Regions from separate parts of the Homo sapiens genome. Here region 2 is linked to region 1. The links come from fine-mapping of genetic effects on gene expression. A gene starts in region 1. The other region holds a variant in brackets. All regions are shown on one strand. Distances are between the middles of the regions. Region 1 holds the start of CEP131 (centrosomal protein 131). Region 2 overlaps CEP131 (centrosomal protein 131).

The links. PIP is the estimated chance that this variant, and not a neighbour inherited with it, causes the effect.
Region 2: its variant is the best candidate, but not a certain one, in a credible set for the expression of CEP131 in esophagus mucosa (GTEx, PIP 0.67).

What each region holds. Positions count from the first base shown.
Region 1 is chr17:81,220,799-81,226,008 of GRCh38, forward strand. CEP131 (centrosomal protein 131) reads right to left here and starts at 2,167. Exons shown (of 26, transcript NM_014984.4): 1 at 1,971-2,167. RefSeq lists enhancers at 528-1,198, 1,199-1,868, 1,869-2,538 and silencers at 1,900-2,229, 2,390-2,759.
Region 2 is chr17:81,191,522-81,196,987 of GRCh38, forward strand. It overlaps CEP131 (centrosomal protein 131), which reads right to left. Exons shown (of 26, transcript NM_014984.4): 14 at 5,409-5,466; 15 at 5,180-5,305; 16 at 4,314-4,430; 17 at 3,349-3,451; 18 at 2,405-2,606; 19 at 1,215-1,322; 20 at 955-1,072; 21 at 797-871. Among named protein-coding and RNA genes, the nearest start is that of AATK, 28 kb to the left of the region's middle. RefSeq lists an enhancer at 1,398-2,115. The variant A/G (reference allele first, on the strand shown) is at 3,122.

The DNA.
Region 1 (5,210 bases):
CCCCTAAGTAAAAATACACATTTTAAAAAGGGGTTGCGTGTTGGCCGGGCACAGTGGCTCACTCCTGTAATCCCAGCACTTTGGGAGACCAAGGCAGGCAGATTGCCTGAGCTCAGGAGTTCAAGACCAGCCTAAGCAACACAGTGAAACCCCACCTCTACTAAAAACTTCAAAAAATTAGCCGGGCGTGGTGGCGAGCGCCTGTAATCCCAACTACTTGGGAGGCTGAAGCAGGGGAATTACTTGAACCTGGTAGGCGGAGTTTACAGTGAGCCAAGATCGTGACACTGCACTCCAGCCTGGGCAACATAGCGAGACTCCATCTCAAAAAAAAAAAAAAAAAAAAAACGCGGGAGTGGTTTTGTGAGGTCCAGACAAGATGCTGGTCTCAAGGCCTCAAGGCTGCACCGGGCAAACACTCCCTGGGTAATGTGTTATTCCAGCAGGGGACGGGGGTTCTGACGATCGATCGAGGGGATTAGCTTGGGGATGCTGGCTTCCTTACTTTGGAACTTCTCAGAGCAAACCCTGCCGGCCCCCAGCCCGTCCCCACATGGCACCTCTTTCTGAACGAGTCTTTCTGATCTTTCTGAACGGGTCTCAGCTCGTGCATGTGCCCCTGCCAAAAACCCTGCAACAGCTTCCTAGGCACAGAGAATAAAGTCTACACATCCAACTCCTGCAAGATCTGGCCCTGTACTCTCTGTGACCTCGCCAGCTCCCCTGCTGTGCCCCTTTGTTGTGGCTTTAGCCAACACAGCCTCCCTGGTTCTCCTCAAACTCAGCCAGCTTGGCCCCGGCCAGTCCCCTGCCTCTAGGTCTCAGGACACTCCCTCCCTGCACTCAGAGGCCTTCCTTGAGCACCCATCACTCTTCACTCCCCATCCGGCTCGGACTCCCTTCCTGTGGCCGCACACAGTTGGTTTATGAATTGTGTGGCTCCTGAGCAACCCCAGCACCTGCAGGGAAAGGCACTCAGCTGAACCCGTAGATGAACGGGAGAAGCTGGCGCCAGGGACCAACCTCGAGAATTACCTCCCTGCCACGGTGGCCTCCAGTAGGCCAGCAGGCACCCAGCCTATCGCCCAAGGTCACCCTGGGCTTCCTTCAGCCCGGCACCCCACAGCAGGTCCCCCAAGGTCCCTTCCACGGAGCGATGGATACCCCTACTCCCTAGAGGCTGACCCTGCCACTGACCAGGTCCCAGTCCTCAGTTATGCACTTCCGGCTGTGCGGAAGAAACTTAACACCCTCCTCCTGCAGGGCACTGTCCACCCCTGGCTGGACCCATGCAAGCCCTTGGAGCCCAGGACTCTGCTCTCCCAGCCACACTTGCAAGCGGCTCTGGGATGGCGAACGGGGCCTCTCCATGGAAACCTCCAAGCCAGAAGAAGGGAGGCCTGGGAGGCCACTACATCTTGGATAAAACTGTGTCCCTCCCAGGACCTGAAGGGGCGGGGACTGATGACCAGCGCCAGGACCTGGTTCCCAGGGTGGGCTGACCCTGACCCTGACCCTGACCCTGGACAGAGAGGCCAGAGCCCACGCGCAGAGCAGAGCCCTCCACTTGTCCTCAGGGCAGCTCCCATCTCCCCATTTTCCCCAGGGCTTAAGGCAGCCGGGCCAGAGATGCCGGGACTGGACTCCATGTTGTCCTGGGGACCGGAGGGGAGTGGAGGGAGGTGGAGAGGGTGGAGGGGATGGAGGTGGGGACCCACACCCTCAGGCACGAGCCTGTCTTCACCTGCGCGGGCCCCGGACCTCCCTCACCTGTGCGCACCCTGGATCCCCCTCACTTCCCCCGGATCCCGCCTTCAATTGCGCGGGCACCAGATCCCCCCACTCACCTGTGCGTGCCCCGGATCCCCATCACTTCATCACTGGACCAGGGCCTCCCACCTGCGCGGGCTCCGGACCCCTCCAACCTCCGTGCGCCCTGCAACCCCCTCCCTTGCCCGGGCCCCCCTCACCTGCGCGGGCCGGGGGCGCAGCCGCGAAGCCTGCCTGGCGCGCGGGGCCTGCAGATTCGGCCGGCGGGGAGGGGATGCGGAACCAGTCGCGCCCAAACCTCGGGTCGGCGACCTGGCGCCCCGCCACCCCCAACACTGCCCCGAGGCCCGGTGACAATGAAGCGGCCGGACGGCCGGGGTGAGCAGCGGCGGCAGCTAGCAACCAGCCTGGCACCACCTCCCCAGCCCGTCACGCCGGCCCGCCTTTCCTGCGCGCGCCGACTCCGGATTGGCCCTTCACGCTCCCGCTCAGGCCGTCCCGGGAGCTCATTGGGCCGCTCGGCTGTCCTTCGGGAAGTTCAAGCGTGGGAGGAGCGGCGGATGGCTGAGGGACGCGACTACAGAGAGCGGCCGATTGGACGCGGCTGGAAAGGGGCGGGTCATATAGGGGGCGGGGGACCGAGGGCGGCGGGAGGAGCTGGCCGGGCAGGGGCGGGGCCCCAGCGGTTGTGGGCGGGGCGTGAGGTGGGGGTGTGATGGGCGAGTAGGGCGAGGCAGATGTGGGCGGGGCAAGGCAGGTGTGGGCGGGGCACGCAGGGCCTGGGGAGGAGACACCAGGGAGGGCGCGAGGAGCACGCGGCCTCGGCTCGGCTCCCCGACACCCCCAGGCCGCCGCACTCCCGCGGCCCGGGGCTCCCCCAGTGTCCTAGGCCGCTCTGTCCCCACCCACGTGCGCGACTCCCCTCGTTACTCAGTACGACTGCGAGGGCGTGTGGGCGCCTTGCTAACCTCCCTGACCTCCTTCCCTTCGCGCTGCTTTGTTGTTTTTTTTCCTTCTCCAAAGTTTTAACGCTGCGCCCCGTGCGTAGCCGCTCTGTGACTCCCCCTCTCTCCGGGAGCCCTGGGGATTCCGCCCAGGTCCTCTCCAGGGAAGCCATCCTTCCCCTAAAAGTCACAGCACACTGGTCTCCCCTGCCCCCGCTTTTTAAAAAGTCCAGTGCTCTGTAAAATAAAAAGTTTGGTTTCAGTAAAATCCACATTTTTTGGTGTGCAGTGGAGTTGTGTAACTTTAGTTACAGAACATTCTCCCTCCGGATCCCGTACCTGCTGACTGCTGGTGGCGGCTGCTCAGTTCTCTCTGTTCTCCATCCCTAGAGGCAGCCTTTTCCAGAATGTCACACAAAAGGGATGTCGCGCAGCGCGCCTGTGGGTCTGGCTTCTACCACTTCGCATTTTGAGATTCATGCTGGTTCCTCTTTATTGCTGAGTGGTATCCTGTAACCGGTGTGAACCACCGGTTCAGATGGTTTTATTTATTGATGGTTTTATTCATCAAATGAAGGACGCAGAGATTGTTCCTGGTGCTTGGCAATTATGAATGACGCTGCCATAAACATTCACTCATCGGCTTCTGTGTGGACACAACTTTTCATTTCTCTTGTGTAAATACCCAGGAGTGGGGTTGCTGGATCAAATGATTGTTTATAAGAAACTGCCGGCCGGGCGCAGTGGGTCCCACCTGTAATTCCAGAACTTTGGGACACTGAGGTGGGCGGATCACCTGAGGTCAGGAGTTCGAGATCACCCTGGCCAACATGGCAAAACCCCGTCTCTAGTAAAAATACAAAAAAATTACCCGTGCCTGGTGGCGTCTGCCTATAATCCCAGCTACTCAGGAGGCTGAGTCAGGAGAATCGCTTGACCCCAGGAGGCAGAGATTGCGGTGAGCGGAGATCACCACTGCACTCCAGCCTGAGCGACAGAGCAAGACTCCATCTCAAAAAAAAGAAAAAGAAAAAAAAAAGGAAACCGCCAAGCTATTTTCTTTTTCTTTTTTTTCCTTTTTTTTCCGAGATGGAGTCTCCCTCTGTCGCCCAGGCTGGAGTGCAATGGCATGATCTTGGCTCACTGCAAACTCCACTTCCTGGGCTCAAGCAATTCTCCTGCCTCAGCCTCCCGAGTAGCTGGTATTACAGGCACATGTCACCATGCCAGGCTAATTTTTGTATTTTTAGTAGAGACAGGGTTTTGTCATATTGGCCAGGCTGGTCTTGAACTGCTGACTTCAGGTGATCCACCCACCTCGGTCTCCCAAAGTGCTGGGATTACAGGCGTGGGCCACCACATCGGCCTACTAAGCTATTTTCCAAAGAAGTTGTACAGCTCTACGCTCCCACCAGTGCCACAGGTGTTGCAGTTGCTCCCCATCCTCCTCAGCTCTTGGTATTGTCAGGGATTGGTTTTATTTGTTTACTTATTTATTTATTTATTTATTATTATTTTTTTGAAACAGAGTCTCGCATTTTTGCCCAGGCTGGAGCATAGTGGCGCGATCTCAGCTCACTGCAAGCTCCGCCTCCCGGGTTCACGCCATTCTTCTGCCTCAGCCTCCCGAGTAGCTGGGACTACAGGTGCCCGCCACCACGCCTGGCTAATTTTTTTGTATTTTCAGTAGAGACGGGGTTTCACCGTGTTAGCCAGGATGGTCTCGATCTCCTGACCTCGTGATCCGCCCGCCTTGGCCTCCCAAAGTGCTGGGATTACAGGCGTGAGCCACCGCGCCCGGCCTACCACATTGTCTTGATTAGTGTTTTTGTTGTTGTTGTTGTTGCAGAGATGGGGTCTCACATGTTGCCCAGGCTAGTCTCAAATTCCTAGGCTCAAGCAATTCTCCCACCTTCACCTCCCAAAGTGCTGGGATTACAGGCATGAGCCACTGCACCTGGCCTAGAGTCAATCCTGAAATCAGGTTTTGAGTCCTTTGTTCTTCTTTCTCCAAATTACCTAGGCTATCCAAATTCTTTTGACTTTTCCTATAAATTTGAGTTTCAGCTTGTCACTATCTTAAAAAATATCCAGCTGTGATTTTGATGGGGATTACATTAAATCTGTAGACCTGTAACCTGGAAGAATTGACACCAGAATTTATGAACATGGTATATCTCTCCACTTATTTAGATCTTCATTGATTTCTTTCATCAGTACTTTGAAGTTTTCAGCATACACATCCTACATATATCTTTCTAATTTATACCTAATCATTTCATTTTTGGAGTGCCATTACAGATGGTAGTTTTTTATGGTTTAATTTCCAATTGTTTATTGCTATTACAAAAGTGTAACTGATGTTAGTATATTTACCCTGGAGCCTGTGTCTTTGCTAAACTCACTTCTTAGTCTTAGGAAGTTTTTGGTAGATTTCACGGGATTTTCTACAATCCTGTTTTCTGTGAATAGTATGTTTTATTTCTTCCTTTCTAA
Region 2 (5,466 bases), 29 kb before region 1:
GTACCAGAGATCGTCATGATGCACAGCCCACGGTCCCCTCCCTCAGAGACCCACAGCCCATGACAACCTGAGGCCACCTTCTGCTACCAGATGGGATGGGAAAGTTGGACTTGCGTGTTGCTGAGGGCGGGGCCTGGGCCCCCAAGCCCAGGCATTCAGAGCCTAAGCTGGCAGCCTCCTGGAAGCCTCTGAAAACTCCCAGAGTTTCATCTGTCCAGCCCTGGGCCCCACAGGGCTACGTCGGGAGCATGCTACTGGGCCCAGAGGCATCCACTGCCAAAGCCTGCCTGGCTGCTCGGTGACATCCCAGCCCACCAGGGTGTGAAACCAGGTGACGGGCACGGTCAGCCTGGACTGTAGCCTCGCGGCGGGCATGGGTGGTGAGAATGTGTGTGGGACTGTCACCGTGGCAGAGTCCACCCCCCACAGAAGGCCCCAGAGGCTAAGGGGGGAGCCCCTGTTGTGCGTGTCCCTCTCGGTACATCTGAGTGTCAGTGGGCTGGTCGTGGGGCGCAGGGGTGTAGCAGCCCCTAGCGAGAGGGGCAACGCCTGTTCTCGGACCACAGAGGATGCGCTCCAGGCACCCTTGATCCTTCCAGAGCCCACGCAAAAGATGGGCTGAAAGCAACACACTCAGCGTCAGTTCAGACAACAACCCCAAGCAGCCAGATGTGACTCCCAGAAACGAGCCCCCAGGATGCCACAGCAGCAGCAAAACCCACCTGGGGCAGCCCCCAACTCCTGCCCACGCAGGGCAGCCCCCAACCCCTGCCCACCTGGGTGCCCAGGCCCCCACCTCCTTCCTGGTGCGGCCGGCCTCCCACGCCTGCCTCTCCAGCTCCAGCTGCTGCTTCAGGGTATTCAGCTCCATCTGGGGGGCGGACATAAGAGGCCAGTCAGTCCCACCCCGTGCAGCCCCCTGGCCAGGCCCAGCACAGCCCTCCGGTGGTAGACCTGGTGCCGGCGCTCCTGCTCCTCCCTGCCCTTCTCAAACTCAGCCCTCAGGGCTCGGGTCAGTGCAGAGCTGCTCTCCTCCAGCTGCTGCCTCAGCTCTTCCAGCTCCGCCCGCTGCCTGCGGCCAGGGAGGAGTCAGCAGGTGAGGGGTCATCGAGTAAGGAGTCAGGGATGGGAGAGGTCAGCGGGTGAGGGGGCGGGGGGGAGGGGTCAGCCAGCGAGGGGTCCCTGGGAGAGGGCGTGGTGCCCCCGGGCGGCACCTGGCTGCCTGCTGGCCCAGCCGCTCCCTCTCCTCAGCCACCTCACTGTACAGCCGCTGCCGTTGCTGCTGCAGCGCCCACTGCTCCTGCTCCAGGTGCTGCTGGAACCTGCGGGACGGTCAGGACTGGCTCTCGGGGGCCGGGACGGGCGGTCCCAGGACCCACCCACCGCAGGGGCACGGGCCGACCACAGGCCTGACTCACAGCTGGAGAGCAGCCCTCCGGGGCCCTGCCCCTCCCCCTCGGCAGTCAAGGCCCCTCAAAGCCACCGCCCGGGGGCAGGCAAGGCCACGAGGAACTTGCCCATCAGCCAAGCGCAGCAATTCCCTGAGCTCCAGGCCCTCGTGGCACTTTGGGAAGTGGCTGTGGAGCCGCGTCCAGGCCCCCTTTTCCCTCAGCCCGTGTGCCGGCCTCACCCTGTTCAGCATTGCCCCACGGGCATGGAGGGCGGGAGGCAGGTGCCTCGTGGGGCCTTATCCACCTCCCCTGCCTCCGGCCTGAGGGTGCCAGGTGCCTGGCTCCGTGACCTGAGCAAGCTCGCGCCAGGGCCTCGTCCTGACCCCACCTTCGAGGAGAGACTGGGGGACCAGCCAAGCTGCATCTGGGGAGGACCAGCCACGACAGGCAACAGGGTGGATAGGAGAGGGTGGCTTCCAGGCTGTCCTGGTGGCGCAGACAGTGCAGGAGGGGCTGCCACTGCCCCCTGTGGCCCGCAGATCCTGACCACCACTGGGCACGTCCCCAGCCCCCAGGGCTCAGGACGCAAGAGCAGCAGTCACCCCTCAGACCCCAGGCCAAGGGAGTGAATGAGAGAGACCGTCCCTGGGCCCCAAGGTCAGAGCTGGAGGGGCCTCGAGGCCGCCTATCCACGGGTTGCTGCTCTGGGGCCAGTTGTGAAAGAGTGGATGTCTGGTGGGGGTTCCCAGCCCTGACCCTGGGAAAACACCCGTGCACCCATGCAGAACCTGCAGACCTCGGCGGGCATGAACTGCAGACACAAGCCCGAGGACACTGGCCCGGCTGAGGCTGGGCCCCCAAGGGCCACTCCAGGGCCAAGGGCCCTGCGTCCTCCCTGCATGCTGCACTAAGACCCTCGCCCACCTCTACATGGGAACTCCACTCCAGCCTTCGAGGATTCCGACTCCCCGCCCTGAGGGTCCTGGCCCCACCGGCCTGGGGCCACCACCCACCGCTGCCGAGCACGTTCGCGCTCCTGCTGGCCCAGCGCCTCCTTCTCCCGCTCCAGCTGCTCCCGCAGCTCCTCGGCCTGGCGCAGGCAGCGCTGCGAGGCCCGCTCATCCGACTGCAGCAGCTCCGCCTCGTGCAGGCTCTTGAGCCTCCGCACTTCCTGCTTGTGCCTTGCAATCAGCTTCTGGATCTCGGGCTCCAGACCTGGGGGCGGGGCACCAGCTAGGGCCACGTCCAGCTAGGGTGGGCCCGGGAAGTCCAACCCTGGCACAAGACCAGCCTGTCTCAGGCCCAGAGGGGACCCCGCCCACCCAGGGCCTCCTTGGATCCAACCCGAAGCACAGCTGAGTCTTGACGCCCACGAGGTGGGGAAGAGACCCCCACAGGGCCACGGCGCCTCTCCCAGCCTGTGGGGCTCAGGGCTCCTGACACTCCTGGTGCTACCACTGACGGCTCCCAGGCACCCTGGCAGGTGTCCAGAGCGAGAGGACCAGGCCTCGGGGAGCCCTGCACATCACCCAAGGGTCCGAGGCCCCTTCAGACCACAACACCCACCAGCCTCCTGCCCCATCCGCCTGCCTGCCCCTGCCTCCTCCTGTGGCTCACTCTGCTTCCCGTGGCAGGGCCCACGTGCCACAGTCGTCCACAAACTCCCAATCTCCCCTAGCCCAACCCTGAGGAAGTGAGGCACTGAGCCCCCTCGTTTCAGGCAACTGCCT[A/G]GATGCTGGGGGCTGGGCCAGGCTCCTGTGTGGAGCCCACCTGCCCCCCGGGTCACGGCAGAAGCCGCAGCGGAGGCCGTGACGGGGGTGGTTGGGGCATGAGTGTTCACCTCTGCCCAGGAAGGTCTCGGACTACATGAATGCCTGAAGTTATGGCTCTCTCAAAAGAAGCCCTGGCCGCAGCACCCACCCCACACCTGGCCGGCTCATGGGAGGGGAGGGCCCACCTCGGACAGTGACCTCCTTGATCTTCTTGGTTTTCTCACTGATCCACTTCTCCCGGCGGGCTTTCTCGGTGGCGCTCATTAATTCTTTGAGTTTTTTAATCTCCTACGAGCAGAACAGGGCAGGAGGAAACGACACGAAGGACACCCCCGTCCCTTTGCCACCCTGTGGGCACAGTCAGGGCCGGGCTTCCAGGTCCACCAGCACAAGGCCGGCACTCATGGTTGGGTGTGCTGCCCCGAGACAGAGCCACTGCTGCCCTCCCCAGCGCCCGGGGCCAGGCTGGAGGCCCAGGCCCACCCTGCCACACACCTTGGTGGCCTGAGACATGGGAGGGCAGCCATCAGCCTGCAGAGGCCTTGCCCCAGAGAGGGGTGCTGCTGCCTGTCGGGACGGCCCCAGAGCCTGCATTCTTCCATGGGACTGGCAGTCCTCAACCCCGGCTGTCAGCCACAGTCACGTGCAGGGATTTTAAAATGCCAGTGCCAAGCCCCACTCCAGAACCTGGGCTCGGGACCATCACTGCCCAAGCTGGTGGGAAGCATAGCCAGGGAGGCTGAGGCCCCCAGGGAGCTCACACAGCGGGAAGGGGCGGGGAGTCAATGCTCCACCGACACCTGGTCAGTAGAGAGAGCAGGTCCCATGGCCCAAGGACCTGGCAGTGGGGCAGACCAGGCAGAGGCTCCTGGGTCCACGGCTACCGTGCTGTGGCCGGGCAGGGACTGTGCGTCCACATCTGTGACAGCAGGCCCACGGCCCCGCCCCAGAGCCTGGCAGCTAGAGAGGCAGGAGTGGACCAGCTCGGTGCCACGGTGCTCCCCCAGACAGCCCCACCCACCGCTGTGGCCCTGACACACCGAGACAGGAATGAGGACTCCAAGTCCGGTCCTGTTCTGGGGGCTGTGCCAGCTGAGCCTGGCCTGTGAGCCGGGCTTGGGACGCCGTGCAGTAGGGAGCAAAGCCTCACCAGCTCGTGCTGCGCCTGTGCCTGGGCCACACGCTCGGTGCATCTCTGGTCCTCCTGCTTCAGCTCGGCCACCACAGCCTCGCACTTTTCACTCAGGACCTTCTTGTCCTCAATCAGCTGTGTTGGGGACCGGAGGTGAGGTGCTACACCAAGGCCCCAGCCCAGCAGGACCCCTGATGGAGGAGACCCTCCCAGCCTCCGAGGGAGGCTAACAGCAGCCCTCCCCTGGGGCTGCCCCTCCTAGGTTTGTGGATGGACCCTGGGGCCAGTGGGGGGGCACGTGTGCAAACACGGGCCCAGGCCTGCATCCGCCGTCCTGTCCTCAGCTGGGGGACCCGGCGAATGTCAGAGAAGCCCCAGCCCACCCCCTGCAGTGATGTCAGGGTCTTCCTGGGATGAGGGTAGCTCTGCCGAGGCCATCACCCAGCCCTGGAGGAGGCTCACTGTCTGCCAAAGGGTGTCAGGACCACACCAGCCTCACTGCCGGCCCCAGGCCAGACCCCAGGTCAGGACACACCTGTGACAACTATCAAGCAGCCCTGGAGGCCCCTATTCTCACACACCCCAGACCAACTCTAGGTCTCTTCTCTTCAGAACAGGAGCCAACCGGGGCTGCGACTGAGCTGAGGGGCCGGCAGGACACCCCACTACACTCACACGGGGCGGCTCTGGATAAAGACAGGAGTGCCCTCTCCAGGGCATGCATGGCTGGGAATGGCATGGGAAAGGCTTGGAATGCGTCCAGCGGACACCCGTGTGACACCCAACAGAGGAAGAAGCTCCCTGGCAGTGGGAAGCCCCTGGCTCTGGAAGTCTCCATGAGCCACGCGCTGGGTCCGGGCCTCTGCGCTCCCCGGGCCGCTCACCTGGTCAATGAAGGCCAAGTGCCGCTGGATGGTGGCCTCGTAGTGCTCCCTCTGCCGCTGCAGCTGCCGGCTCAGCGCCTTCTCTGTCTCCTTGACCCGCCGGGCCGTGAGGTCTCGCTGCTGCGCCTGCAGGGTGTGGGCAGAGGAGGGAAGCGCTAGGACCGGTGGGCCTGGCCTCAGCAGGTAGGAGGCTAGCAGGGCCCGGGATTAGCAGTGCCAGCAGCGTTACCAGCGCTCTCTGCAGCAGCAGCATGGCCTGCTTCTTCTCCTCCACCTCCAGCTTCAGC